Linked DNA regions of Homo sapiens. The protein of the gene in region 1 purifies or fractionates together with the protein of each later gene. This does not show direct contact. Each region holds a gene or a part of one and is shown on either strand. Other genes may lie near its edges.

Region 1 (7,029 bases):
GTTCCTTCCACCTTATGCAAGTACTAATATGCATTGTCACTATAGATTAAATTTCCTTTTCTAGAATTTCATAAAATGAAATAGTATTGTCAGTACTCCTGTGTCTAGCACTAAATGTGTTTCTAAGATGAATTCAAATTTTTGTATGTATCAATATTCCTGTTTCTTGGGGAAGAGGTATTACATTGTGTTAATATATTACAATTTATCCATTCATCTGTTGATGGGCATTTGGATTGTATCCAGGTTTTGACTCTGAACAGAGCCTCTGTGAACATTCTTATAAAGAGTACTGGGTAGTATGCTTTCATTTTCATGTCCTTAAGGGAAATTATGGTTCTGTGATTTCATTTGTTGTAAGCCTTAGATATTTGTTATTTGATTTCCAAATATTTGGGTATTTTTATGCTATCATTTTGTTATCAATTTGTAGTTTAATTTTGTTATGGTCAAAGAATGTACTTTGTATGACTTTAGTCCTTTTAAATTTATCAGTGTTTGTTTTATAGGACAGAATGTAGTCCATTTTGTTGAATTTTCCATGCACATGAAAAAAAATGTGTATAATGCCATGGGTGGGTGGATTGTTGTGTAATGCCAGTCAGGTCAAGTTTCATGATAGTGTCATTCAGGTATTCCATATCAGTACTTTTTTTTCTTGTGTTATCAAGTCATTGAGGGGGCATGTTGAAGTTTCCAGTAGATTTGTCTGTGTTTCCTTTCGGCTGTATCGATGTTTCCTTTATATATTTTGAAGTTCTATTTTTGTGTTCATGCACATTTAGAATTATGTTTCCTTGGGGGACTTAACCGTTTTATTATTATGTACTGTCTCTCTTTATCCCTGTTAGTATTCCTTGTTATGAAAACTGCTAACGGTAGTGAATAGATAAAAGTGTAGTTGGATTACAATCTTAATCTGCCATTTTTCTAGATGATTGGTTATGTTTCTTCTGTTTTCTCTTTCTGTCTTTTGTGTATCAATCAAATGGTTTTTATGGTTTTATTTTTTTGATTTAAAACTTTGTTTTGAGACAGGGTCTCACTCTGTCTCTCAGGATGGAGTACGGTGGTGCCATCACAGCTCACTGCATCCTCGACCTCTGGGGCTCAAGTGAACCTCCCACCTCAGGCCATTCACTGCGCCCATAGGAGCTGGGACCATTTCTGGCTAATTTTTGTATTATTTTTTGTAGAGATAGGGTTTCACAGTGTTGCCCAGGCTGGTCCCAAACTTCCGGACTCAAGCCATCTGCCCACCTCGGCCTCCCAAAATGCTGGAATTATAGGTGTGAGCTGCTGCACCCAAGCTATTTTATTTTCATTTTTCTCTTAAAAATATTTGTAGTGGTGGCTCTGTGTTAAATTTTTTCATTTTTTTTCTCTCTGTACTTCAGTTTGGGTACTTTCAGCATATTTTCAAATTTACTGATCTTTCATTCTTACCTGATTAATTCCATCCACTTTTTAATTTTACATATTTTTTTGTCTCTAGACTTTTATCTGGGCCCTTTTTAATATATTTCTTCATCATTATGTGGATGATTTCCAGCATGCTTATAATAGCTTATATAAAGTCCTTGACTGCTAATTTCATCATCTTTGTTATTTCTGCATTCTCAGTTGACTGAATTTTCTGCTAGTTGTGTATGGTAGTTTTCTTCTTCATATCATGTCTTCATATCATTTTATTGAATGCTTAGTACTTTGAATTTTATATTTTTGAGCATCAGGTGTTGTATTCCTGTTAAGGAGTATTGGACTTTATTTTTTCAGAAGTGGTTACATTCGTCTGTGGCTTATGTTGTTAGGCAGTATGTAGGTATGATTGAGCTGCATTGCTAGGGTCTAAACTCCCCTGTATATCCACTGAATCCTCTGGATTTTCAATAGATGCTTCACTGTGGCCTCATCTCTGACGACTGTGTGAGCGTTGGATCTCTTTAGCATATCGCCCTCGGTCACTTTTTGACCAGTTTCATGGAGTTTTTCACCTGTGCATGCGTGGGTTTTTCAGAAGGTCTTCACTGATACTTGGAAAGTGCCTCTAGGCAGAAAGTTGAGGCAAACTTCTGGCTTATCTAATTCATTTTCCTTCTTGGATATTATCATTCAGTACTGCCTGTGGCCTCATGTCTTTAAAAAGTTAACCTCAGTGTGGAAAATCTGTTTTTCCAGTTTTCTAATTGTTTACAACGGGAGTGTAAGTCTGGTCTGTTTTTCCACCCTGGCTGGAAGTGGAAGTCATGGCCTACCATTTTATTTTCAAACCTTTTTTTTTTTCCTACCCAGAATTAGCCTGAAATGCCTCATCTACGATTACTAATAAGAGAGCCTGTTAATTTTGTTTGAAAAATTTAAAGGAACTAGTTTACAGTTTTTCAACCGTGTTATTAATAAAAATTAAATTTCCCTACTTTATCATAGTCTCCCTTTTTATCGTAGTCTTTTGTCTATAACAGTTAAGGGGCAGGGGGAAGCTAGATGTATTATTAAGTAATTTTTACTTTTCTCATTTTTTTAGACCTAAGGATTGTCTTCGGTCTATTATGAGAAGAGTGAACCACAAAGATCCTCACGTTGCTATGCAGGCTTTGACTGTGAGTGGTTTCATTTTAATCTGTACCACGAAATTACCTGCCACAATTGAGCCCCTTTAACTTCTGATTTTGTGCTTTTAGCTTCTAGGAGCATGTGTATCAAACTGTGGCAAAATTTTTCATTTAGAAGTATGTTCAAGAGATTTTGCTAGTGAAGTAAGCAACGTATTAAATAAGGTAAGGAGCATTATTTCCAGAAATTAATTAAGGCAGTCTTCTTTCTTCACATATTTTATTGTTTAAATCTTCACAGAGGACTATTCTGTGCTTTTTAAGAAATCCTTTCTAGGCTGTGTCTATCCAGTATATAAATAAATATTATGTTTTGTTGAAGAGACTGCGGATTCATGTAACTTTGAGTTAGTTTTTTCAAGCCATATTAGAGTGTTTTTAACCTGTTCTTTTCCATCATACTTTCATCTGATAAGAAAACAGGTATTTCTATATCTAATTAAATAATATCAGTCTATTTTACATACTGTTTTTGTAGGCACAAGGTATTTTCCTAATGGAAAACCTTTCAGAAACACTGCAAAAAGTCTATGGCACCGTTGAGTTTTTATCTTTATCAATAAGGCTGCTTCCTGGCCATCACAGGATTTTAATACTATACTGCTATTCTTACTGGCTGAACCCACAGCTGGAGTTGCCTCAAAAGTGGTGGCGGGGGAGTTTCCACAAGGGACTGCCCCAAACTGTTCCAGATAGGGCCAGATGAGAGTCCAAAAAAAGAGGCACTAAATGCCAGGGTGATCAGTCTAAAGGATTTATTAGGGGAACTTACACAGGAGGGCTGCAGTTTATAGGAGGGTTTAAGGAATTTGGCTCAGGGTTGGGGCTGGTTTCTGTGTGTTTAGCAACATACTTGATCTTTTAGTGTTTTGGGCCACAACCTGAACAACTTTATCAGTGCCTGAGAATGTTCAAGGCCCCAGTTTGGGTCCAAACCTATGGTGGAAAACATGCAGCTGGCTAGGTCACAGAGCGGGACAAGGCACTCTGTTTTTCTATTGGGACACAGAAAGAAAGCAGGGAGAACTGGGGACCCTACAACTGCCCACTCAACTGTAGAATTCTAGTCACACAGTTCAAGAAATTTTTCAATTTTCAATTAGTAATATGTGAGTTTCCCCAGTAAAAATTTGTGCATTCTAAAAGTAATTATTTTTGGCCTTTTTAGGGGGAGTACTGTAAATCAAGAAAAAGTTTTTGTATGTTAAAAGGGAAAATGCCTCATGTTTTTGGGAAAAATGAATAGTTCCAGGTTACAGTAGAAAAATAGCAGTATAGAAATATAGTAAGAATGTAAAATTCTGTACTTTTCGAACATCATGGTTAAATGATAATTCTTTCCCTTTCCTGCTTTATGCAGTTAATATTTATTTTCTACTAATTAATAAACATTGTCTTTTAATGTCCTGAATGTCCATCGAGATTACAACTGTTTATGAAGAGATTCTAATACCATGTTTTTTGTAATGTAGGTGAAAAATGTGGTATACTTACCTATGTATAATAGTGCAAGCAGCCATTTCCAAAAACGACTTCCTATAGGCAAGAGGACTTCTCTTTATTTTCTGAATGTTTTACAGTGAACATATTGGTTTTGTACTTAATAACATCCCGCCTTTTTTTTTTTTTTTTGAGACAGTGTCTCTCTTTGTCACCCAGGCTGGAGTACAGTGGCGTGATCTCAGCTGACTATAGCCTCTGCCTCCCGGGTTCAAGTGATTCTCCTGCCTCAGCCTCCTGAGTAGCTGGGAATACAGGCATGCGCCACCACGCCTGGCTGGTTTTTGTAGTGTTAGCAGAGATGGGGTTTCACCATGGGGATGGTCAGGCCAGTCTCGAACTCCTGACCTTGTGATTGCCCACCTCGGCCTTCCAAAGTGCTGGGATTACAGGCATGAGCCACCGCGCCCAGCCAACATCCTGCCCTTTTAAAAAATTTCCTTTTATTAAACAAATTAAGTTCATGTATAGTCTCAATAAAGCGTTTGCAAATCCATTATATGCTCCTTGACCAAAATACAGATTACATGTGCACTTAGAAAGAATTTTTTTTCTTCTAATAGAGTAATCTAAAAGTCTAACCTTCTCCATTTTTAAAAGCTTTAGCCAATTATTTAGTAAGCATTGGTTTGAAATACATTCATGACATTTCATAGAGGAGTTATTTCTTCTCTGGTATCTGTGAAGGTTTCTTTATATCTATTACATCAAATAGTAAGACTTCAAATTATTGCCGCTATGAAGATACATCAGTATTTTAATGAACTGGCCAGGTTTTTTCCCTTAATAAGCAATGAGTAAAATAATTTATTTTGAAAACTCACTACATTTATCTCTTTCTTTAATACGGAAGAATAATGCCCTGCACACCTGCCTTAGACTAACTTGAATCTTTGTTATACATCAACCATAAAGAGTTATGTTATTTTGGGCTGGGCACGGTGGCTCATGCCTGTAATCGCAGCACTTTGGGAGGCTGAGGCGGGCGAATCAGTTGGGGTCAGGAGTTCAAGACCAGCCTGGCCAACATGGTAAAACCCCGCGTCTGCTAAAAGTACAAAAATTAGCTGGGCATGGTGGTGCGCGCCTGTAATCCTACTCGGGAGGTTGACACAAGAGAATCGCTTGAACCGCATCCCCCACCCCCCTCTGGGAGGCGGAGGTTGCAGTGTGCTGAGATCGAGCCACTGCAGTCCGGCTTCTGCCACAGGGTGAGACTCTGTCTCAAAAAACAAACCAAAAAAAAAGAAAAGAAAAGAAAGGAAAAAAAGTTATGTTATTTTGAAGAAATTAAATTTTCAAAATGATTAACATGCAGTGTACCTCAAACTAGGCCCCAGATAATTAAGCATCATGGAAAAAATGCATAGTCATGAACATTAAGAAGTCAGGAATTTGGAATAAAGGAACTGTATCATTTATTCTCTCCTTCCCACTTTTTTATTGCTTTGCAAAAAGCAGACACTTTTCCTTGTCTTACTGATGTACAAACCTTGCTTCGTTGCAAAATATTCTGAAAAGTCCTTTCAGATCTCCAAAATCTTATTACCTATTTAATGCTTTAATTTGAAGTGAGATATATATGATGGGTTTTTTCATAGTGTGAACATTAGTTTTATTTCGAATAACTATATTTTCTTGTCTATAGCTATGCATAACTTGTGATTCAAAAAACATCACTTAATAACTTTACTATTTAAAATGTCTGTATTAAATCATTGGCTAGGAAATTGGTGCTCTTTTATTTCTTTTTCTATTTTACAGGGTCATCCTAAAGTATGTGAAAAATTAAAGGCTCTTATGGTTGAATGGACAGATGAATTTAAGAATGATCCACAGCTTAGTCTAATATCAGCAATGATTAAGAACCTTAAGGAACAAGGAGTTACGTTCCCAGCTATTGGCTCTCAGGTATTTTGGGAATGAAGTTGTGTGTGTGCTACAGTTTGTTTCTCTTAAATAGCTATATTTATTTGAATTTTTTTCTTCATTCCCAGGTAATTTTTACTACTTCAGAGGAATTTTCGTTAGCTAATTGTGTTAGTAACTAGTTGTATTGCTAGTTAGTAATACTAGTTTTCTGGCATTCAGAGGTGCCAGAAAAGTATTATAATGGAATATTAATGTGCTCTAACCTCTCTACTTCTTTATAAACGAATTGGTTTAACATTTTGCAGTTTTTGAAATTTTTTGGTATAGTTTTTGTTTGTTTGTTTTTGAGACGGAGTCTTTGTTTGTCGCCCTGGGTAGAGTGCAGTAGCGTGATCTCGGCTCACTGCCACCTCTGCCTCCTGGGTTCAGGTGATTCTCCTGCCGCAGCCTCCTGAGTAGCTGGGACTACATGCACGTGCAGCCAGACCTGGAAATTTTTTTTTTTTTTAAATAGAGGTGGGTTTCACCATGTTGGCCAGGCTGGTTTCGAACTCCTGACCTCAGGTGTTCTGCCCGCCTCGGCCTCCCAAAGTGCTAGGATTACAGGTGTGAGCCACCAGGCCCAGCCAGTACAGTTTTAATAATATACACAAAATAGCTTTATTAATTAGGTAACACTGTCTTTTTAAATGCTCTTAATGCTATAATTTTCTACAAAGAATGATAGCTCAGAAATCAGGATATCCTTAAAAGTTAGGGATGACTTGAGAGATTCTTTTGTGGAGGAAATTTATGAATTCCTCTATTAACAATGAGAGGACTTTAGAAGGGGTAAATGGGAAGAGAAGCACCTGAAGCATTTTCTCCTTAGTAAGAGCCGACCAGTACATAAGTCTTCCTTTCCCCAGTGGATATGGCTAAATAGCTTAACTTTGCTCTCCTGTCCACCCTTGTGCCAAAAAAATTCAGTCTCTAATTTATGTCATGTAGAAAAAAATCAAGAAATGTCTTTTTTATTCCTATTTCTATTTTGGGTAACCTTCCT
Region 2 (5,877 bases), on another chromosome or scaffold:
GGGGGAGCCGAGGGCGTCCAGGAAGGCGGGCGTGGACGCTCCCGCAGCCGGCCCAGCATGGGCGGATTTGAGCAAATGCTGGGGTTGAGAGCTTTGGAGAGGGAGGTGGGGGTGGGAGGAGAGGCAGGAGCCCAGTTCTTCAGGGCAGGGAGGTGGGCAGGGAGGCTGCCAAGCAGCGTGGGTTTTATCCTCAGGAAGGGAGGACCCCTTGAAGAGCTCTGCGGGGGTGACGTGATGGGATCTCACTTGTGAAGCAGACTGGGGGTAGCTGGATGGGGAGGAGGGGCAGGACGGCAGGTGTGGGTGGGGGCAGCTGGACCTGGGGTGCAGCGGCCACAGGGCTGGAGCATTTGAGGGGGATTCTTGGGGATGGGGAGGCACCGGCAGGGACCCGCCAGGCAGGCAGCTGTCCTGTCCCCGCAGGTGCACGTTCATCGGGAACCAGGACACTTACGAGACCCACCTGGAGACTTGCCGCTTCGAGGGCCTGAAGGAGTTTCTGCAGCAGACGGATGACCGCTTCCACGAGATGCACGTGGCTCTGGCCCAGAAGGACCAGGAGATCGCCTTCCTGCGCTCCATGCTGGGAAAGCTCTCGGAGAAGATCGACCAGCTAGAGAAGAGCCTGGAGCTCAAGTTTGGTGAGGGTGGGCACCGGGGCAGGCAGGGGCCTGGCCACTGCTCCGGGCACCAGTGACACCCCCTCTCCTCCTGCTACTCAGACGTCCTGGACGAAAACCAGAGCAAGCTCAGCGAGGACCTCATGGAGTTCCGGCGGGACGCATCCATGTTAAATGTGAGCGGGCGGGGCTGGAGGGGCTGGGTTGTGAGACCCGGGGAGGCCGGCGGCCCCGGCAGGGAGGCCTCCCCTGGCCTTGCCTACACTAGTCAAGATCAGGGGTCTTGTGTGTGGCAGGGGCTGCTGTCACCCCTGCCCACCCCTGGCCCAGGGCAGCAGGGGCAGAGAGGCTGCACTGGCCCCACAGCAGCCCTGCCCACCTGCCCTCTGCCCTGCCCTTGGCCCTGCAGGACGAGCTGTCCCACATCAACGCGCGGCTGAACATGGGCATCCTAGGCTGTGAGTATGGACCCGCCGTGGCTCCCGCCCACCCTCCCCCCCGGGCCCCAACTGGGCCTTCACCCACTGCTCCCATCTCTGCAGCCTACGACCCTCAGCAGATCTTCAAGTGCAAAGGGACCTTTGTGGGCCACCAGGGCCCTGTGTGGTGTCTCTGCGTCTACTCCATGGGTGACCTGCTCTTCAGTGGCTCCTCTGACAAGACCATCAAGGTGGGCAGGGTCCTACCTCAGTCTCTGCAGCCTGGCTGGGCTGGGCACTGCCACATGCCTGGCACTGCCAGCCTGCCTATGGGTGGGACCTTCTGGGCAGGGCCCTCTCCCATGGGCGGGGCTCCCTCACTCATTCCTGTCATGCTGCCCCTTGACACTGGGCTGACCTTGCTGGGACCCACTGTGGCCCTGGTCTCTGCAGGTGTGGGACACATGTACCACCTACAAGTGTCAGAAGACACTGGAGGGCCATGATGGCATCGTGCTGGCTCTCTGCATCCAGGGGTGAGTCCAGGCACATGTGTGATCAGTGATTCCCAGGACAGGAGACGTGGCGCTGCCACCCCGTGGGCCGTGAGCCATGAGCTCGAGCCTGTGTAGCTATGTGTGTGCCCCACCTATAGGGCACCCTCCACCCGGAGCAGCACTGTTTCCTGGGTAGCAGTGTGTGGGCCCTTGTGTGGCCTACACCATCTCCAAAGTTGTGTGTTCCCAATACCTGGCGCAGCCAGCCTCCCAGCAGAACCTTGTCCTGGCCCAGGTGCACCTTGCGCAACCAGAAGATAGGGGGGACCTTAGGGGGTGAAGGCAGGAGCTCAGCTCTCCCCTGCCTGCAGCCAAAGCCCAGGGCATAGAGACTACGGAGCAACTACCTTGGCCACTTTCTTGCCTCCAGGTGGCCCGCCTGCCTCCTGTCTCCTATCGTGAGGCTTTGTGGGAGCGAGCAAGTAAGCGTGTGCGTGAGAGATGCTCGCTTTCAGGAGGCGGCAGCTTGACTGCCAGCAGCCGGCCCTGGGACTGACTCAGGGCTGACGGGTGGGTAATTACCTCCCAGCTCGCTGTCAAATGCTTTCCAGGCAGGCATCAGGGGCTGGCCCGCCCCTTCCAAGGTTCCCATGTGGAGACTGGAAAATAGGCTGACGCTTAAGGACACAGCAGTGGCCTTGGCCCTGGGCCATGCTGCTGGTTCCTGATGGCTGGCATGGACCTCGGGCCCTGCCAGGGCGGTGTCAGCATGGACACAGCTTCTCCCACCTTGACACATTGTCTCTGCTTCCCCAGGTGCAAACTCTACAGCGGCTCTGCAGACTGCACCATCATTGTGAGTGGGGCCTACAGGCGGGTGGGCAGGAGGCGGCCCAGGCCCGCCCCAGTCTGTAGGTGCCCCAGGGACGTGTTTCTCCCCGTCTGGGCTCCAGACTCCAGGTGGCAGGGCTTGGTGCCCTGAGGCTGCCGGTCCTTCCCCAATCAGGTGTGGGACATCCAGAACCTGCAGAAGGTGAACACCATCCGGGCCCATGACAACCCGGTGTGCACGCTGGTCTCCTCACACAACGTGCTCTTCAGCGGCTCCCTGAAGGCCATCAAGGTACGGGTGGAGGCTGTGCCTACGTGTGTGTCACTGAGGCGTCCCTTGCCCGCCCAGCCCACAGTTGCAGCAATCCCTGCAGGTCTGGGACATCGTGGGCACTGAGCTGAAGTTGAAGAAGGAGCTCACAGGCCTCAACCACTGGGTGCGGGCCCTGGTGGCTGCCCAGAGCTACCTGTACAGCGGCTCCTACCAGACAATCAAGGTGCGCTTGGGCACACCTGGTGGCCACAGGGCCTTGCCTCCTACCAGCACTTCCCAGGCCAGCACCTGGGGCTCCATCTGCCCTGTTCCTACCTTCGCACATCCCCTGGCTGGGTGGGTGGGCTGCCCAGCAGTGCTGAAGCCCTGGGGGTGCGGGGGCCCTGGGGGTGAAGCACCTGGCCTGGGACCAACTGGCCCACGATTACTCATAGATCTGGGACATCCGAACCCTTGACTGCATCCACGTCCTGCAGACGTCTGGTGGCAGCGTCTACTCCATTGCTGTGACAAATCACCACATTGTCTGTGGCACCTACGAGAACCTCATCCACGTAAGGCCTGGGCATCTGGGTGCAAGGCCAGACTGTGGCCCCGTCTCCCCCGCCTTGCTCAGTGTCTTTGACCTGCCTGTGCCCACCCCTCCCAGGTGTGGGACATTGAGTCCAAGGAGCAGGTGCGGACCCTCACGGGCCACGTGGGCACCGTGTATGCCCTGGCGGTCATCTCGACGCCAGACCAGACCAAAGTCTTCAGTGCATCCTACGACCGGTCCCTCAGGGTGCGTGCTGGCCCAGCGGTGGCAGGAGGCTCAGAGGGCTGGCAGCTGAGCTCCGGCGGGCCCTCACGTCCCATGTGCCCCCAGGTCTGGAGTATGGACAACATGATCTGCACGCAGACCCTGCTGCGTCACCAGGGCAGTGTCACCGCGCTGGCTGTGTCCCGGGGCCGACTCTTCTCAGGGGCTGTGGATAGCACTGTGAAGGTCAGTGCCCGTGGCTCAGGCCATTCAAAGGGGCTGCACAGGATGGAGCGGGGGTGGGGACGAGGAGCTGGCAGCCCCAGCACAAAGTGGTGGAGGGCAGGTACGTGTGGCAGGTGTGGCTGGGGCAGGGCAGCCGGCCGCAGGACATCCTGGTGAAGCAGCCCTTTCTCTGCAGGTTTGGACTTGCTAACAGGATCCAGGCCAGGCTGTGGTTTCCCCTGAACCAGCCCTGGACCTTTCTGAGCCAGGCTGGCCACATGGGGTGGTCTCGGGGTTTCTGCCTGCCCCGTGGGCATAGGTGGACAGGCTCTGGCAGCCGGGCAGTGCCCTCCCCGTCCCATGCTCGGCGAGCCTCCCTCTACTCGGCACTGTCCTTGCTGCCCAGCCCCTCTCTGGGTGCCAGGTACGACGCTTGCCCCGGCCCACCCTCCATCCCCACCCTCCATCCCCACCCTAGATGGAGCGAGGGCCTTTTTACTCACCTTTTCTACCGTTTTTAGACTGTATGTAGATTTGGTTACCTCCTGGTTGAAATAAATGCTCCACAGACTGTGGCTGTGAGTGGGGACAGCTCCTCGGGACAAGGGGGCTGTGTGTGGCCTTGAGGTTGGTGTGCACAGGCACTGGCTGCTGTGAGTGGGGGGGCATGGGGCAGTTTCCTTTGGTGGACCCCAGGACTTCGGCCCACTCCGGGGCCTCCCCTCCCTGCTAGGAGGCAACTCGTCACACCCAAGCTGCTGGCCTCCAGTCCCATCTCCCCCAACACATGTGCCCCCAAAAAGTGAGCCAGGCACCTCTGTTTCCTGCTGTTTATTGACAGCCGACGGCAGCGCCTTGCCCAGACCTCCCCTGCCCACCTGCTGGAGCCCAGCCTGTGCCGCCCTCTGAGGAGAGGCCTGGGGGGACAGCTGGGCACGTCCACTCGCAGGGAAACACGGGGTGAGACAGCAGGAAGGGGCCCTGCACGCCGGGACGCCACCTCCGCCAGCCGCCTCCACCCGCCCCACACCACAATCGCTGGTTTTCGGCATTTTTTAAATTTTTTTTTTAAGAAACGTCAAAGTTGTGCCCAACACTGTGGATCAGCAAACACGATAGAGGAGACCAGTCAGTACTTCTTGGAGGGGGCAGGAGGAGAGAGGAAAAGGGAGGGCGAGAATGACCACACAACACAGCCTTGGACCATGAGCAGAAGCGTCCGTGGGAACTCCACTGGGGTGGATGGGCTGCCTGCACAGCCCCTGGAGAGGGGGCCAGGCACACCCTCAGAGGAGCTGCAAGCCCGTGGCCTGGCCTGCTACATGCCCTGCTTCCACGTGGCTGCCACGCTGACACACCCACATTCACCAAACCCACCCGCGCCCTGGGACGCAGCCACGCCAGGAGGAGGACACGGCCGCCGAGAGCAAGGCACAACCTCGAGTTCTTGGGGCGCAGAGAACTTAGGAGAGAAGCACGGAGGAGCCCCCGGCAGAGCACCCGCCCCCGGGCCCCAGCCTTCCACCTGTGCTAGCAGCCTGGGGCCTCCACTCTGGCCGGAGGAAGGACCGCAGGCAGACAGCCTGGGCCTCTAACAGCTTTTGTCCGGAGCTAGACTTCGTGTCCTTTCAGTTGGTAAATGGTTTTCTATAGAATCAATAATATTTCTTTCTTTAAATATATATTTGTTAAAGTTATACCTTTTTGTTTCTCTGGGGAAATCCGCCTCAGCTCATTCCCAATAAATTAATACTCTTGATAGCTTATATTCTGGGGGTGCGGTGGGGCAGGGGGGCCCTGACCTTGGTCCCCTGTCCCTTGTGCTGCGCCCGAGCGGCTGGCCGGGCGTCCCGATGGGCAGTTCTGTGCTGGGCCCGGGCCTGTGCGCTGCCCCATCCCTGGTCCCGGGGCGCCCTCCCCTCCCGCGCGGGCAGGAGGCCCAGCAGGTATTGCACGGGGAGCAGCAGGTGGGGAGGACCCGCGGGCGCAGGGTCTGCCTAGAGCCCTTGGAGCCCCCGGCCAGGCGGTCCCCGGTGGGCGCCCCGGCCCGGGTCCAGGGGCCGGAGTTGTGCTTCTGCAGGGCCCTGCCCGGCCGCTCGCGCCGCGCCCAGACGCGCCCATCCTGAGGTATAGGTCAGTGTGCGGGGAGGGCCCGGGCGGCGCGGGAGGGCCCGGCCAGGCGGCGTTCACTCCAGCATGGCATCCAGCTGGTCGGCCAGGTCGTCGAACATGCTGCCGATGTCGTCCAGGATGCTGCCAGTGCTCTTTTCCG
Region 3 (7,029 bases), on another chromosome or scaffold:
TTTATCCTTATTTATGGACTTCTGAACGAGATATAAGGTCAAAAAATGCACAATTTATTAGGTATTGAGTGCCTTCAATGTGTAAGCTACTATGAAACAAATAGCTCATTGAGACAAAGGGGAAGATTTTACCTCCTTAAACACATTTTTTCAAAGAACCAAAAGTACACATTGATGACTACTATTTCATTAAATGCATATATTTCTTACCTATTATTCATGAGTGCATTCCCAAATGATCTTCTATTTGATAATACATAGTCTAGTTGTACATAAATGAAAGTACATTTCTCTATGTATCTTACAATTCTGTCTAAATATTCTCAAAATTAGTTCTTTTCTTTTTTAAATCAGACAGGGTCTTGCTCTGTCACCCAGGCTGGAATGCAATGGTGTGATCATAGCTCACTCCAACCACGAACTCTTGGGCTTAAGTGATCCTACCTCAGCCTCCCAAATAGCTAGGACTACAGGCATGTGCCACCACGCCTGGCTAATTTTTTATTTTTTTTTTTAGAGATAGGGTCTCACTATGTTGTCCAGGCTAGTCTTGAACTCATAGCCTCAAGTGATCCTCCCACCTTGGCCTCCCAAAGTGCTGGGATTACAGGCATAAGCAAACATCATGCCTGGCCTAGTTCAAAGTTTTAGTAAAGATTTTATCCATATCCTTTATTCCCTTGTTAATTAAACTCTAGGAGATCCACTTCTAAGGAGAATGATTTTTGCAATCATCTTGTAATAGACTAAATTTACTTATTTTTATAACTTAGTAAAAAATTATACATAACATTCCATAGTCAAGATATCACAAAGAACAATGAAAAAGCCAAAGATGAGATGAGAAGAACTTGTTGATTAATTTTCCAAGATGAAATAAAATTAGAAAGCAAGAAAAGTAAATTACAGATTTGTTCATTAGTGGTTAAAAAAAAAAAAACACCCAGAAAATTAAAAGGAAAAATTAATGATGTAACTCTGTGTTCAAGGACTCTTCTCAATTATTTACAAAAATTATCAACTAAGGACACATTTATTGAAAATCATGACAATAAGTTTAGTGAAATATCCTTTACTTCAACTCCATGTTCAGTACTAATTCAGAGGCCTATTAGCCACTGATAGTTGGCCCAAAATTATAGGCCAAGAAAAACATTAACTTTACATGCAATGCAATGCAGTGAGGATGTTTGAATAAAATCTCTTTTCAGTTTGACATCCTGAGAGTCATCTGACCAAATTATGTTAATCTCACATCAACTGTTAGTTTTAAACCATATAATCCAGAAACAAGGTTGGAGAACTAGAGTCTGGAGATGATACTTCTGTCAGTATAGGTAGATAGATTCCTATCCTAAACATCTCAAAGAAAACAATTTACTTCAACTTTATTTTGCCATAAGTAGTCAAGAAAATTTTCCTTATTTTAATGTGAGATACACAAATATCACAAATTTGTCCAATATAATATGAAAAAAAAATAAGTACCTCTCCCAAGAGCTGCTCTTCAGCAGCAGGGCTCTCCTCCCCATCACTCTGTGCTACTTGGTCAGAGTCTTTAAGAGCCTTTGGTACACAAAACAATTACAGGGGAAGGTGAAGAATGTAGTATTAAAAGGCTATTAGTGAACCAGGAAGACAAAAGACCCAACCAACAACATTCAGAGCTAGTTTAATCATAAGAAGCAACAGTGAGTAAATTTATTTGAGAAATACCATTAGAGGAAAAGCAAAGAACTATTACTGCTAACACTTTCCCATTCTTTTTTTTTTTTTTTTTTTTTTTTTTGAGACCGAGTCTCACTCTGTCGCCCAGGCTGGAGTTCAGTGGCACGATCCCGGCTCACTGCAACCTCCGCCTCCCAGTTCAAGCAATTCTCCTGCCTTAGCCGCCCAAGTAGCTGGGATTACAGGCATGTGCCACCACGCCCAGCTAATTTTTGTATTTTTAGTAGAGACAGGGTTTCACCATGTTGGTCAGGCTGGTCTTGAACTCCTGACCTCAGGTGATCCACCTGCCTCGGCCTCCCAAAGTGCTGGGATTACAGGCATGAGCCAACACACCCGGCCCACTTTCCCATTCTTTCCTACCATTTTTTTTTTCCTGGCCAAAAAAAAAAAAAAAAATTTTATCTTAAGTATTTGAGTAGTCATTAATTCTGTTTTTCCTGCTTTACAAAATTCAAATATGTATGTCAAGAGAAAGGAATGCTCTACCAGCTAAGCTCATGTTATTTTAAAATGAGAATTATTAATTTATTAAAATATCTAGAATAAGCATTTATTTTTATACCATAAAGCATAAAACACAAATTTCTTAAATGATATTTCCTTCTTCGTTATGACCTAGCCAAAGTTTTAGAAGGTAGCTATTTTTAAAGGCCTTCTTACCACATTGGCTCCATCCACTTTGTTCAAGGCCAAAGCAATCTGAAATAAAAATAACAGCTCACCTACTACATGGAATTCTATTTCAGAGCATCCAGCAAATGTTCACCTCTTGCTTCTCACTGGCGAAAATCCACAAAAGTTCTTATAGGAATAGTATGTTTAAAAAAATTAAAAAAGCTATGCAGAACTGGTTCTCCATGGTGCTAGCTTCTTTCACATGGAAGTAATTAGAAATAATCCGACAATCATTCTATTTCCTCATTTTTTGCCATCAGGCATGCAAGTAAAACTTTCATATCAATCTCTTACAAGCCTAAAAAAGTTACAGCCTCAAGAAGTTTAGACTACTAATAAAGTTAAATATAAAACTCTAAAGGAGTGAGCAAAGACATAGCCACTAAGCAGTGGGGTTGTGATGTGATCTTAGTTAGTTCTGCCTGACATCAAAAGAGCACTAATCTTCAATATGCACTTAAAGTGCACAGTATACCTCTACCACACATGCAACAACCTGCAATGCTATAGAAAACTCTAGCCATTTCCAAAGAATGATGAAAGGCTAATACAAGTTACATAGTCATTTATCAATATGTATTCAAAACTCTGGCAACCACTGTGGGTAATGATGGAGAATAAGAAAAAGAAAAAGGGAAAAAACGCTGGCAACCAAACACAAATTATTATTAAATGTTTATTGGGTGATTTGAGATAATCTGTGTAGAACTTTATTTTTTAAAAGTATGATTCATAAAGAGCATGCCATCTAACTTTCCCAAAAGTTTACCTTCTTTCCTAGATCTTCTTTTCTGTATCCTAGAAGTTCAAGGTATTTTCCACGAGAATCATCCTCAAAGTTTACCTTTAAAAAAAAAGACATATTCTTAAAACAAAGACCTACATTTAAAGGCCGAATTTTTATAAGAATGAATCAAATTCCAAAGAGAATTATTAAAAATATCTGAAGTCTACATTCTAAAGATTCACTGTTTGAAGGAATCCAAAGAATAGTGGGTTTTTTTGTTTTTTATTTGGAGACCCAGCCTCAGGAGGTCCTGAGAACATGTGCCCAGAATTATTTTTTTAAATAAGTTATTTATTAATAGTAAATATACTAGTAATTAATTATCCTGGTTGAATAAAGCTTACTTTTGAACAGTAATTTCTGTAAATACAAACTTATGTCCAAAGGTTAAACTGATACAAAACTCAAACTATGTGGAATATTCTATGTCCTAAAATTCTTTCCCAAAATTATTACAAAATATAAATTCTTTAATTTTATACTTTAACCTAACTGTATTCAAGACTGCTTTACCTTTGAAAAACCAGTACCGTATAAAGAAACAGACATTCCAGTGGAGGCAAAATGACCAACCAGGAAATTCTATTTGTTATTCTAATCTAACTCCTCTTAAAGTAAAAGGAAAAATGCCTCCAACCTCTCTCCTCTATTCCTCTTCCTCTTTTTTCATTTTCCTTAACTAGATCTACTATAGATGTTAAATATTCTGTTTTCATTATAGTAAACTCTATGTACTCATCTTCAAAATAGGTGTGCTGACTATGTCGCTCTCCTCTAAACAGACCTATTATTATTTTTTTTTACTTATTAAAAATGTATTTCATATTACACTTTTCAAAGCAGAGAAGGAAAAACTCTGGACATAAGTTAGGTTGTATGCTCTTTATAAGGCTTCTTAATTTCATGATGAATTGCTGAAATCACACTTTTTCAATTGTTTCTTTAATAGGAGGACAGATTTAGAATATAAAGGAACAGTTAAATTTGCAGATAATGAAATAATATAGCTTTAAACAGCAACTTTACCTTCAAAAAGGACCACACATTTTTCTCAAATTCAGTCTGAGAAGCATCAATTTTTTTTTGGCAATAATTGATAAATCCTTGTGACTGCACAGCCTGCTGAAGTTGGTCTGATCGGCTGAGGAACTCCTTTTCTGTTACAACCTGACTAATGAACACATGGTGCTGCTGCTGCTGCTGCTCAGCTCCCTGATGAGAAGGCATTCTGACATTCTCAAACGTAACCAGTTTGCCTCCAAACTATAAAAGAGAGAATGAACAAACTCAGTGTTAACCCAAGGATATGGCCAAAAAAAGTGCTTATAAAGTGGCCTAAACAGATAATCTGGATGAAATTAGTTGATACAACCTCTCATGCGCCACAGTCTGACACCACTTCAATTTCTGTTCTAGATGAAATGTACTTTTTTGGTTTTTTGGTTTTTTTTTTTTTGAGACAGAGTTTCGCTCTTAGTCACCCAGGCTGGAGTGCAAAGGTGGGATCTTGGCTCACTACAACCTCTGCCTCCTGGGTTCACGTGATTCTCCTGCCTCAGCCTCCTGAGTAGCTGGGATTACAGGTGCCGGCCACCATGCCTGGCTAACTTTTGTATGTTTAGTAGACAGGGTTTCACCATGTTGGCCAGGCTGGTCTTGAACTCCTAACCTCAAGTGATCCACCCAGATAGAGAAGACCAGATAGGACGATGAGAAGATTAAGCAGATCCAAAGAACAGACTTACGAGTGACATAAAACATATTCAAAGGTCCATTTTAGGAAGATTAATCTTGGAATATGTAGTAGAGATTAGAGGGGGAAAAGACAAGCAACAAATATGAAATCAAGCTATTAGAAGTTTGGCATGAAAGAATTAGGCAAGGTATCAGCAATGTAAAAGGAAGAAACAAACAAAAAGTGCTAGAGAGGATGTGGAGAAACTAGAACCCTTGTGCACCACTAGTGAGAATGTAAAATGGTAAAACGGCTATAAAATGGTATGGAGGTTCTTCAAAAACTTAAAAATAGAACCATCCTATGATCCAGCAATCCCACTTCTGGGTATATGTCCCAAAAAACTGAAAGCAGGATCCCAAAATGATAATTACAAACCCATGTTCACCACAGCATTTATTCACAATAGCCAAAAGGTGGAAGCAACCAAAATGACCATCAAATGAATGGATAAAAAAAAATGTGGTATATATATATATATATATATATATATATATATATATATATATATATACAATGCAATATTATTTGGCCTCTAAAAAGAAGTAAATTCTGTCACACTACAACACAGATAAACCTTGAGGACATTAAGCTAAGTAAAATAAGCCAGCCACAAAAAGACAAGTACTGCATGATTCCATTTATATGAGTAATTTAAAGTAGAAAACTCCTAGCAACAAAGTAGAATGTGGTTACCAGGGATTCAAGGGAAACAGGAAATGGGGAGCTGTTGTTCAAGGGCACAGAGTTTCAGTTTTGCAAGATGAGAAAGTTCTAGAGATCTGTTGCACAACAACGTGTATATAGTTAACACTACTGTAGTATATATTTAAAAATGGTTGTAGTGTATATTTTAAAATGGTTAAGATAGTAAATTTTATATTATGCATTTTTTACAATTAAAATTTTATATTATGCATTTTTTACCATTAAAAAAAGCTGGCAATTAAAAAAGAAAGCTAAAAGGATGAAGAAGAGGGAGGACACTCCCTGCAAAAAGAAAAGAAAAAAAGAAGAAAAGAAAAGAAAAAGAAGGGAGGGAGGGAGGGAAAGAGAGACAGAGGGAGGGAAAGAGAGACAGAGAGAGAGAGAAGGAAGACAAATTTAAAAGGGAGGAGGGCCGGGTGCAGTGACTCATGCCTGTAATCCCAGCACTTTGGGAGGCCGAAGCGGGTGGATCACCTGAGGTCAGGAGTTCAAGACCAGGCCAGTCAACATGGTAAAACCCCATCTCTACTAAAAATACAAAAACCAGCCAGGTGTGGTGGCACGTGCTTGTAATCCCAGCTACCCAGGAGGCTGAGGCAGGAGAATCGCTTGAACCAAGGAGGCGGAGGTTGCAGTGAGCCAAGGTTGTGCCACTGCACTCCAGCCTGTACAACAGAGTGAGACTGTCTCAAAAAAACAAACAAACAAACAAAAAAATGGAGGAGGGGAGGAATATAAAGTGTTGGCTACACAACAACAATGTAAATGTACTTAATGCCATTGAACTGTATATTTAAAAATGAACAAAATGATCAATTTTATGTATATTTTACCATGATTTTTAAAAAAGGGAAAAAAAAGAGTAGGTTCCAATTTTTCAGAGAAACCATTTTGAATGATGAAATACCCACAAGTACATCTCAAATCCCAACTTAAACCCTGATTGCTTCCATCAGAGTGACTCTATAATAACACTTTGGTATAAAAAGTCCTTTGTGCCTATGGACCATAAAAACAAAATCCACCTACTGAAAAAGAAGCACCAACAGGCCTTCGAATCCACTTGGGCGGCTTCTTCAGAGGCAGCACTATACTATGCTGAGCAGTCTGCTGTGGAATTTGTAACGGAGGAAGGGGCTGTCCTGTGCCAAAGGGATCAAGATTCCCAAAAGATGATGAAAGCTAAAAAAGATAATAATAACATAAGCATCCGACCATACACAAAGTTTCATTTTTTTCCAGTCATATCCAAAAAAATTTTTGATCACAATTGTCCAATTAACCAGCATTGTTAATCAGTGAAGTCATTTCAAAATATTACACAACACATACTTTTTTCAGGCATTATAATAGAAAACTTTAACACTTCCTATTACCTTGTCAACTTGTTTCT
Region 4 (7,009 bases), on another chromosome or scaffold:
CCTAAGTAGCTGCTTCTTAAGGAATATGGGGAACCCCAAGGAAAAAAAGCACAATGAACATAATCTCAATAGTCTGACTCACTGCACAAGATAAAGGACATAAAAAATGCTAAAGCATAAAGTATTTGCCAATGACAACAGAATAAACTAACATTCACATTTCTTAATGGTAGGCAGCTGATGCTGTCTTAGGAAATAGGCTGAGCTTAATCTCTCAAACAGCTTAAATTGCTTTTGTAGTTGAGCCAATCAACTCAAACTAAAATTATCTGAGTAACGAGGTTGACACCATGCAATTTATTTATTTATATATTTTTTTGAGACAGAGTTTCACTCTTGTTGCCCAGGCTGGAGTGCAGTGGCACAATCTCGACTCAACGCAACCTCCGCCTCCCAGGTTCAAGCGATTCTCCTGCCTCAGCCTCCCAAGTAGCTGGGACTACAGGCACCTGCCACCAGCCCTGGCTAATTTTTTGTATTTTTAGTAGAAAGAGGTTTCACTATGTTGGCCAGGCTGCTGGTCTCGAACTCCTGACCTCGTGATCCACCCGCCTCGGCCTCCCAAAGTGCTGGGATTACAGCGTGAGCCACCGCCCCAGGCCATGACACCAGGTAATTTAGTAGTAGCACTCCAGGTTTCAATCACATAAATTACTTCCAGTTTACATTTATTTTATTGCTTCAAAAAAGGTAAGCATTCTTATAGATGTTCCCACAATCCACAATGGACCCTTGGGGACAACTAGAAGACTCACTACAAGTACCAGGCACTTAAATACATTACTAAACCTTATAGCAAACCTACAAGGTAGTTTTTTGCCCTATTTTACAGGGAAAACTCAGGAAGATTTGAGGTGACACTGGAAAATTGCTTTATTGGGTAGAATATGTTTCCATCTGATCATAATGATCTTTCTGATATTTCACAATTTAGAGGAGAAGTGATAAGAGCCATTTTTCTGCAAATCCACTCCTGAGCCACAGTGTCAGGTGAGAACACTGGTTACCTCATCTATTGCTGACTTCAGGTTACACCCACTATCATTCCCAAGCACCACCTGAGGGTATACTCTGTGGAGGACCTTACACAGCCTTGTCCTTAATGGGCTGGCAAGCCTAGCTGGGAAAGAAAAGCTTTTCTCCAAACCTAGCTTGTCCGAGATTAACTTATGATGGAGAAGACTTCTTTGGTGACCTGAAAACTAAGAATAATCTCTGCAGCCAACACAGCAGTTTGATCTTTTTCCTGTTTTCCTCTGTTTAAGTTATTGTAGTAGACCATTAACCCACCCAGGTAAACATCACTGTTCCTCAATCTTTGAAGGGTATTACTTTCAAATTACATAATTTCATGGGGGAGGAGAGGGAATGCAAGGCTTCCTACAACAAGACTGACTTTCTTGACACCAGTGCTAAAGAAGGGGATGATCATTTTCACCATGTCAACATTATAGGAAGCAAGAGGAAAAGAAGGGGGGCAGGGGTCTATAGCTTCATAGACCTTTCCTAAGAGACAAAAGGGGCTTTGGAGGTGAGAATGTGGCTGAATTCAGGAAAAGCAAATCCACGCTAGGAATGTGCTGCAATATCCTAGTAAGGGGACTTTTCATAGGATAAAGCCCCACAGATTATGTAATCCTACACATAATGAGTGGACAGGGAACAGGAACATAAACCCTCTGGGAAAATCATGACTTTTTTAAAATCAGCTTTCTCAGGTTGAAATGATTTTTTTTCTCTTTCTCTAGTTGTCATTTCTGAAAGAAAGAGTTTATAAAAATATTCTGAGATTAAAGCCCAAGGTTGTGGGGAGGGAGGAGGCTTGGTTTTGGAGAAGGTTAGAGTTTAGATAGAGCAGGCTGCTCAGAAATACTGTCCAATCAGAGGGCTCAGCCTTGGCTGCAGACTGTAGTTTAGATTTTAGATTCTCTGACACTAAAAATAATGCCTCTTACCATGGAATAAACCAGAGACAGTTATATTTTCCTGTGTATGGAAGGAATGAACACACGCCCATGATACAGTGGAGAGAAATGTTACCCTCCCAGGTTAAGGCAGGTAACCTCGCTCAGGAAAAGGTTATCTGACAGCCAAGGACATAAAATAAATGCTGCAGGGCAAGCAGAAAACATGCATCATGCAAACCAGGGCTGCCGCCTCCTCACCTCCTTTCAGCCAGCCCAGCCTCCCAGTCCTCTTTCTTGGGCTGAGCTGAGATCTGCCTCGGGTGAAACGAGAGATCCCTATGGTTCCTCAAGTGCTTGGATGGAGAGCCCTGCCTGCTGTCTCCGGGAACGGAGCGCTCCACAGCCTGGGGACATTGCGAGACTGCCCTTGCCTGCTTCTGCTTCTAAGGTGGCTGCATTCCCAGGAACCAGAGCCTGCTTTTCCCGAGCTCTCCTAAAAATATTTATCCTCTGCCGGTCCCTATGGGAGAACGACAGTGTGAAGAAGGGTGGTTTATAAACTGCTTAAGGATTTGCCTTTTGACGTTGCAAACCAAGGAAGAGGAAGATATTTAGGACAGACGAAGGTTTAAACAGTTGTCAAATTCTATTCAAGCACTTCTTCCCCGTCACAAACGCAGACGGGGAAATGCAGATCTAGCCCGCTGCTAGCAAGGAGGCGAATGCGATACCCTGAAAATTCCCGACTGGACCACCTCAAAAAGCGACAGCCTCAATGCATTAGGAAAAACCTGCGTTTTCGTGGAACCCGGCGGAGGAATTTTGTATCCCCTTCAAATATTGCGTAAGAGGAGGAAGAGAGAAGCAGCGCTGGGCTGCACCTCACCACTTGCTGTGCACCCCGGAAAGTGGCGTCCAGCAGCATCAGCTTCCAGGGGTCGGACACGGAGCCAGGCAGCGGGATGTAGACGTAATAGGCGGCCAGCGCCACCAGGGCGGTGAGCAGGACACAGGACGACCTCATCTTGCCCTGGCTCGGCTCGCCAGCGGGCTGGCAAAGAGGAAAGGGCGATACCACCCGGAGACCTCCGGCAACTTTCTGCCCGCGGCAGCTGCTCATTCACGCGTTTCTTATAAGCCCAGGAGCCAATCAGAGGCTGCGTCGGGAGGAAGTTGGAGCGCGGACATGCCCCCTCTACGGTGTCCTTGCAAAGTGTGGCAGTCACTACAGGTTTGAGGAAGGCTCTGTCGCTGCTCTGGCCGTAGGCACAGCGGACTCTGGAGGACACTGGTTTGTACTGCATGCGTGTGAGGATGGCTTTCCTCCTGGAAGGTCTCAAACGGAAAATAGTTTCAGTGTGACGAGTCTCTGGACAAAGCAAGTGGGTCATTCTGACTCAGAGTACTGAGAAAGGATATAAAAATTCTGTTTTCTGGAGCCAGACTTGGAGTGGTTTGTAAGTTCTAGCTGATATATGGCAAAAGAAGATATTAAATTCTTCTGGCTCAAGCAATGAAAGGCCAGTAGTACATCTAGCACCCAAGTCTTGGTTTCTAAATCCTATGCTCCAATAAGAGGAACCACGGCTTTTTGACACAACCTCTGGAGAAAAGGCTGATACCAGGGCTGGGGCTGTAAAGTACAAGATGAACCTGTTGTGCCAGAGATGCGGAAGTGCTCAAAAAATGATAGGAACTGGTCAAAGGTCCACAGCTGCCAGCTTGAAGGGTCTCCCAGTGGCTGAAGCTGGGATAATTTTACCATCAATATAAATCATCATAATGGATAACCCATTGATTAAAATAAAACTCAACAATCTATATTAATATAAATAAATGAGGAAAGAAGAAAGGCTTTTCTTAAAATAGAATGCCAGCTAGTATCCATAGAAAATCATAAATGAATGCTAAAACTAGAGGGTAAAAATTTGACACAGAATTTTGGTCCTTCATCAGAAGATCTCTCCACAAATTACTACAAAGGGAAAAAATAATAACTTTTTATTGGAGAAACGTGTGGATATCACCTGAAAAATTCTTTCAGTGAGTCAATGGTAGCAGAAATACACTTAAACCCAGATTTCTTGTTAATGATTGGGGGTGAGGAGGGGTGGGTGAGTACTGAATGGGAGAGAGAAAACTTCACTAGCAAAATTTCAACCAGAAATCCAGAAGGAAAACAGTTAGAAGACCTGTTTCAAGAAAGTGGTAGGATGACAACTCCAAACTTATTGATGAAGGTCTTAAAACACCTAGTATATATAATTATGCATCTTAAGATGGTAATTTTAATTTAATCAAATTAATAGAAGTGAAATAACCATAAATTTGGTTCTGATAATGAGATTTTTAGGAAACAGTTGGCTTCTTCTTCAACATTGAAGGAAAACTGATAAGAAGGGCACACTTTCATGGTATTTCAAGCAAGTTCTCTCTCTCTTTTTTTTTTGTTTTGTTTGTTTTTGGTGTTTGTTTTTTGTTTTTTTTGAGACGGAGTCTTGCTCTTTTCGCCCAGGCTAGAGTGCAATGGCACGATCTCAGCTCACTGCAACCTCCACCTCCTGGGTTCAAGCAATTCTCTTGCCTCAGCCTCCTCAGTAGGTGGGATTACAGGTGCCCACCACCACACCTGGCTGATTTTTGTATTTTTAGTAGAGATGGGGTTTCACCATGCTGGCCAGGCTGGTCTCAAACTCCTGACCTTGTGATCTGCCCACCTCAGTCTCCCAAAGTGCTGGGATTACAGGCATGATCCACGGCACCTGGCCTCTCTCTCTCTCTCTCTCTCTCTCTCTCTCTCTCTCTCTCTCTCTCTCTGTCTTTTAAGTTACTGGTTAAACTCATAACTCTAAACAGATAGGAATGTTTATGTTTATGTTTGTGTGTGAGTATATGTGTAGAAAATTAGAAGCTATTCTTTTTTTTTTTGAGATAGAGCATCGCTCTTGTCACCCAGGCTGGAGTGCAATGGTGCAATCTTGGCTCACTGCAACCTCTGCCTCCCGGGTTCAAGCCATTCTGCCTCAGCCTCCCGAGTAGCTGGGATTTCAGATGCCTGCCACTAAGCCCAGCTAATTTTGTATTTTTAGTAGAGACAGGGTTTCACCGTGTTGGCCAGGCTGGTCTTGAACTCCTGACTTCAGGTGATCCACCTGCCTCAGCCTCCAAAAGTGCTGGGATTACAGGTGTGAACTACCACGCCCAGCCAGAAGCTAATCTTTATGGGTGATTAGGAATAATCCTGGAGATATAAACCAAGCTGACTACTGGATTTAGTTACATTACTTGCTTTCAGGAAATCTGCAAAATAAATCCAAGTTTTACCTTGTCGACAATACTTTTCTCTTAGATTTTGACTATATGTTCATAAAAACATAGATCTTAGAGCTAATGACAAAACCAAACCGAACCAAAAACAAACAAGCAAACAAATCCAAAAATCCCCACACCTAACTCAGCCTTCCCTCTTCCACCAGCAGTTAACACACTCGGTGTTATAGATGAGCCTCTTGAGGATTAGCGCAGCCAAATGGCTTACTCATATTCCTCTAGTTTGTAAGTGATAGTAGCAATATTTATTTCTGCCTCTCAGTGAAGTGTGGCTTCCCTTAAGCAGTACACTAAGAGATAGAAACTAAGAAAGAACAAAGAAACTGTAGTAATTCTCAGATCAGAAATCTGAGAGCCTCTGTAGATCTGAGAGTTTTTTAAAATGAGACTAATTTGAGATAAGTATAAACACCTTCATCACTTGTTTTCAATACTTCATTCATTCAACAAACATACCTGGCCTACACTGGGAAATAAAGAAGTTGTGGCAGGCAGGCTGTAAGGTTTCGACTCTTTGATTTTATATGCTTGGAGGGTGGTGGGGAGGGGTTCAGGGGAGGATGTAAGCATGATACAGAAGGAAGAGCCAAACAATAAACAAACAAAAATTAATAAGCAACATGCATTAATTTGCCTTGCTATGAGGTAATTCTGTGGTAAGCACTTTGAATATATTAACTAATTTAGCTTCATAACGATTCTACGAAATAGGTACCATTGTTACTCTAAAAACAGGCACTGAAAGATGAAGTGCTTTGCCCAAGCCATCCAGCTGGTATGTGAGCCCAGAGTCTGAGCCTAGTGCTCATGTGCTTTACCACTCAGCTCTACTGCTAAGTGGTTAAAAATGAAAATGGCCGGGCGTGGTGGCTCACGCCTGTAATCCCAGCACTTTGGGAGGCCAAGGTGGGTGGATCACCTGAGGTTGGGAGTTGGAGACCAGCCTGGCCAACATGGGGAAACCCCGTCTCTATGAAAAATACAAAAATTAGCTGGGTGTGGTGGCACGTGCCTGTAATCCCAGCTACTCGGGAGGCTGAGGCAGGAGAATTGCTTGAACCCGGGAGGTGGAGGTTGCAGTGAGCCGAGATTCCACCATTGCACTCTAGCCTGGGCAACAAGAGTAAAACTCCGTCTCAGAAAAAAAAAAAGAGAGAGAGAGAAAACAGAACAGGGTGTCTGGGAGCTGCTTTAAATTGGGTGGGAAAGGGGACCTCTTTAAGGAGATGCCATTTGAGCTGACATCTGCATGACAGGAGAAGACTGCCATGCAGGGTTGTGGAGGTGGAGGGAACAGGTGCAGAGGCTCTAAGATGCTAACCCGGTCAATGAACACTAACAGCTAGTGAGGCAGAAGTACTGTGGGAAAGGTGGTGGAACAGGCTCAGCCACAGAGGTAGTGTGGGTGCAGAAGAGCAGATCATTTAGGACCATGTAGGCCATGTTAAGGAGTTTGAATATTCTGGTACAATGGGAAGCAATTGGAGGTTTTGTAACAGGAAAGTGACATGATCTGATCTATTCATATATTTAAAAAGGAGCACTACAGCTGCCATGTGGAGAAGACCTGTCAGGTGGCTTTTGCAGTAGTCCAGATGAGATATGATGGTGGCCCGGAGCTGCAGTTTAGTTTAGCAATGGAATCAAGGGGACAGATTTTGGGTATATTTTAGAGATAGGGGAGATAAGACATACTCATAAATTATGAACGATGATAACAAGAGTCAAAATACTCTGTTTCTAAGGCAATAAGGTGTAGTTTGAGTGCAGAA

The links.
Region 2: the proteins of STAM (region 1) and TRAF7 purify together in Homo sapiens (affinity purification with mass spectrometry; 2 studies listed by BioGRID and IntAct, with this or other methods). This does not show direct contact.
Region 3: the proteins of STAM (region 1) and SEC31A purify together in Homo sapiens (affinity purification with western blotting; 2 studies listed by BioGRID, with this or other methods). This does not show direct contact.
Region 4: the proteins of STAM (region 1) and NCEH1 purify together in Homo sapiens (affinity purification with mass spectrometry; 2 studies listed by BioGRID and IntAct, with this or other methods). This does not show direct contact.

What each region holds. Positions count from the first base shown.
Region 1 is NC_000010.11:17,682,151-17,689,179, forward strand, and holds part of STAM (signal transducing adapter molecule 1), read left to right. Parts: intron 1-2,524; coding exon 2,525-2,600; intron 2,601-2,681; coding exon 2,682-2,777; intron 2,778-5,876; coding exon 5,877-6,023; intron 6,024-7,029. UniProt on the Homo sapiens protein: Involved in intracellular signal transduction mediated by cytokines and growth factors. Upon IL-2 and GM-CSL stimulation, it plays a role in signaling leading to DNA synthesis and MYC induction. May also play a role in T-cell development.
Region 2 is NC_000016.10:2,172,759-2,178,635, forward strand, and holds the end of TRAF7 (E3 ubiquitin-protein ligase TRAF7), read left to right. Parts: intron 1-423; coding exon 424-641; intron 642-722; coding exon 723-796; intron 797-1,029; coding exon 1,030-1,078; intron 1,079-1,162; coding exon 1,163-1,290; intron 1,291-1,492; coding exon 1,493-1,575; intron 1,576-2,352; coding exon 2,353-2,392; intron 2,393-2,542; coding exon 2,543-2,659; intron 2,660-2,741; coding exon 2,742-2,864; intron 2,865-3,075; coding exon 3,076-3,195; intron 3,196-3,290; coding exon 3,291-3,422; intron 3,423-3,506; coding exon 3,507-3,626; intron 3,627-3,801; coding exon 3,802-3,816; 3' UTR 3,817-5,371; downstream 5,372-5,877. Other genes in the region: CASKIN1 (caskin-1), read right to left, coding at 5,792-5,877. UniProt on the Homo sapiens protein: E3 ubiquitin and SUMO-protein ligase that plays a role in different biological processes such as innate immunity, inflammation or apoptosis. Potentiates MAP3K3-mediated activation of JUN/AP1 and DDIT3 transcriptional regulators.
Region 3 is NC_000004.12:82,860,143-82,867,171, forward strand, and holds part of SEC31A (protein transport protein Sec31A), read right to left. Parts: coding exon 7,013-7,029; intron 6,819-7,012; coding exon 6,666-6,818; intron 4,457-6,665; coding exon 4,220-4,456; intron 3,251-4,219; coding exon 3,176-3,250; intron 2,431-3,175; coding exon 2,392-2,430; intron 1,567-2,391; coding exon 1,489-1,566; intron 1-1,488. UniProt on the Homo sapiens protein: Component of the coat protein complex II (COPII) which promotes the formation of transport vesicles from the endoplasmic reticulum (ER).
Region 4 is NC_000003.12:172,708,054-172,715,062, forward strand, and holds the start of NCEH1 (neutral cholesterol ester hydrolase 1), read right to left. Parts: upstream 3,015-7,009; 5' UTR 2,932-3,014; coding exon 2,794-2,931; intron 1-2,793.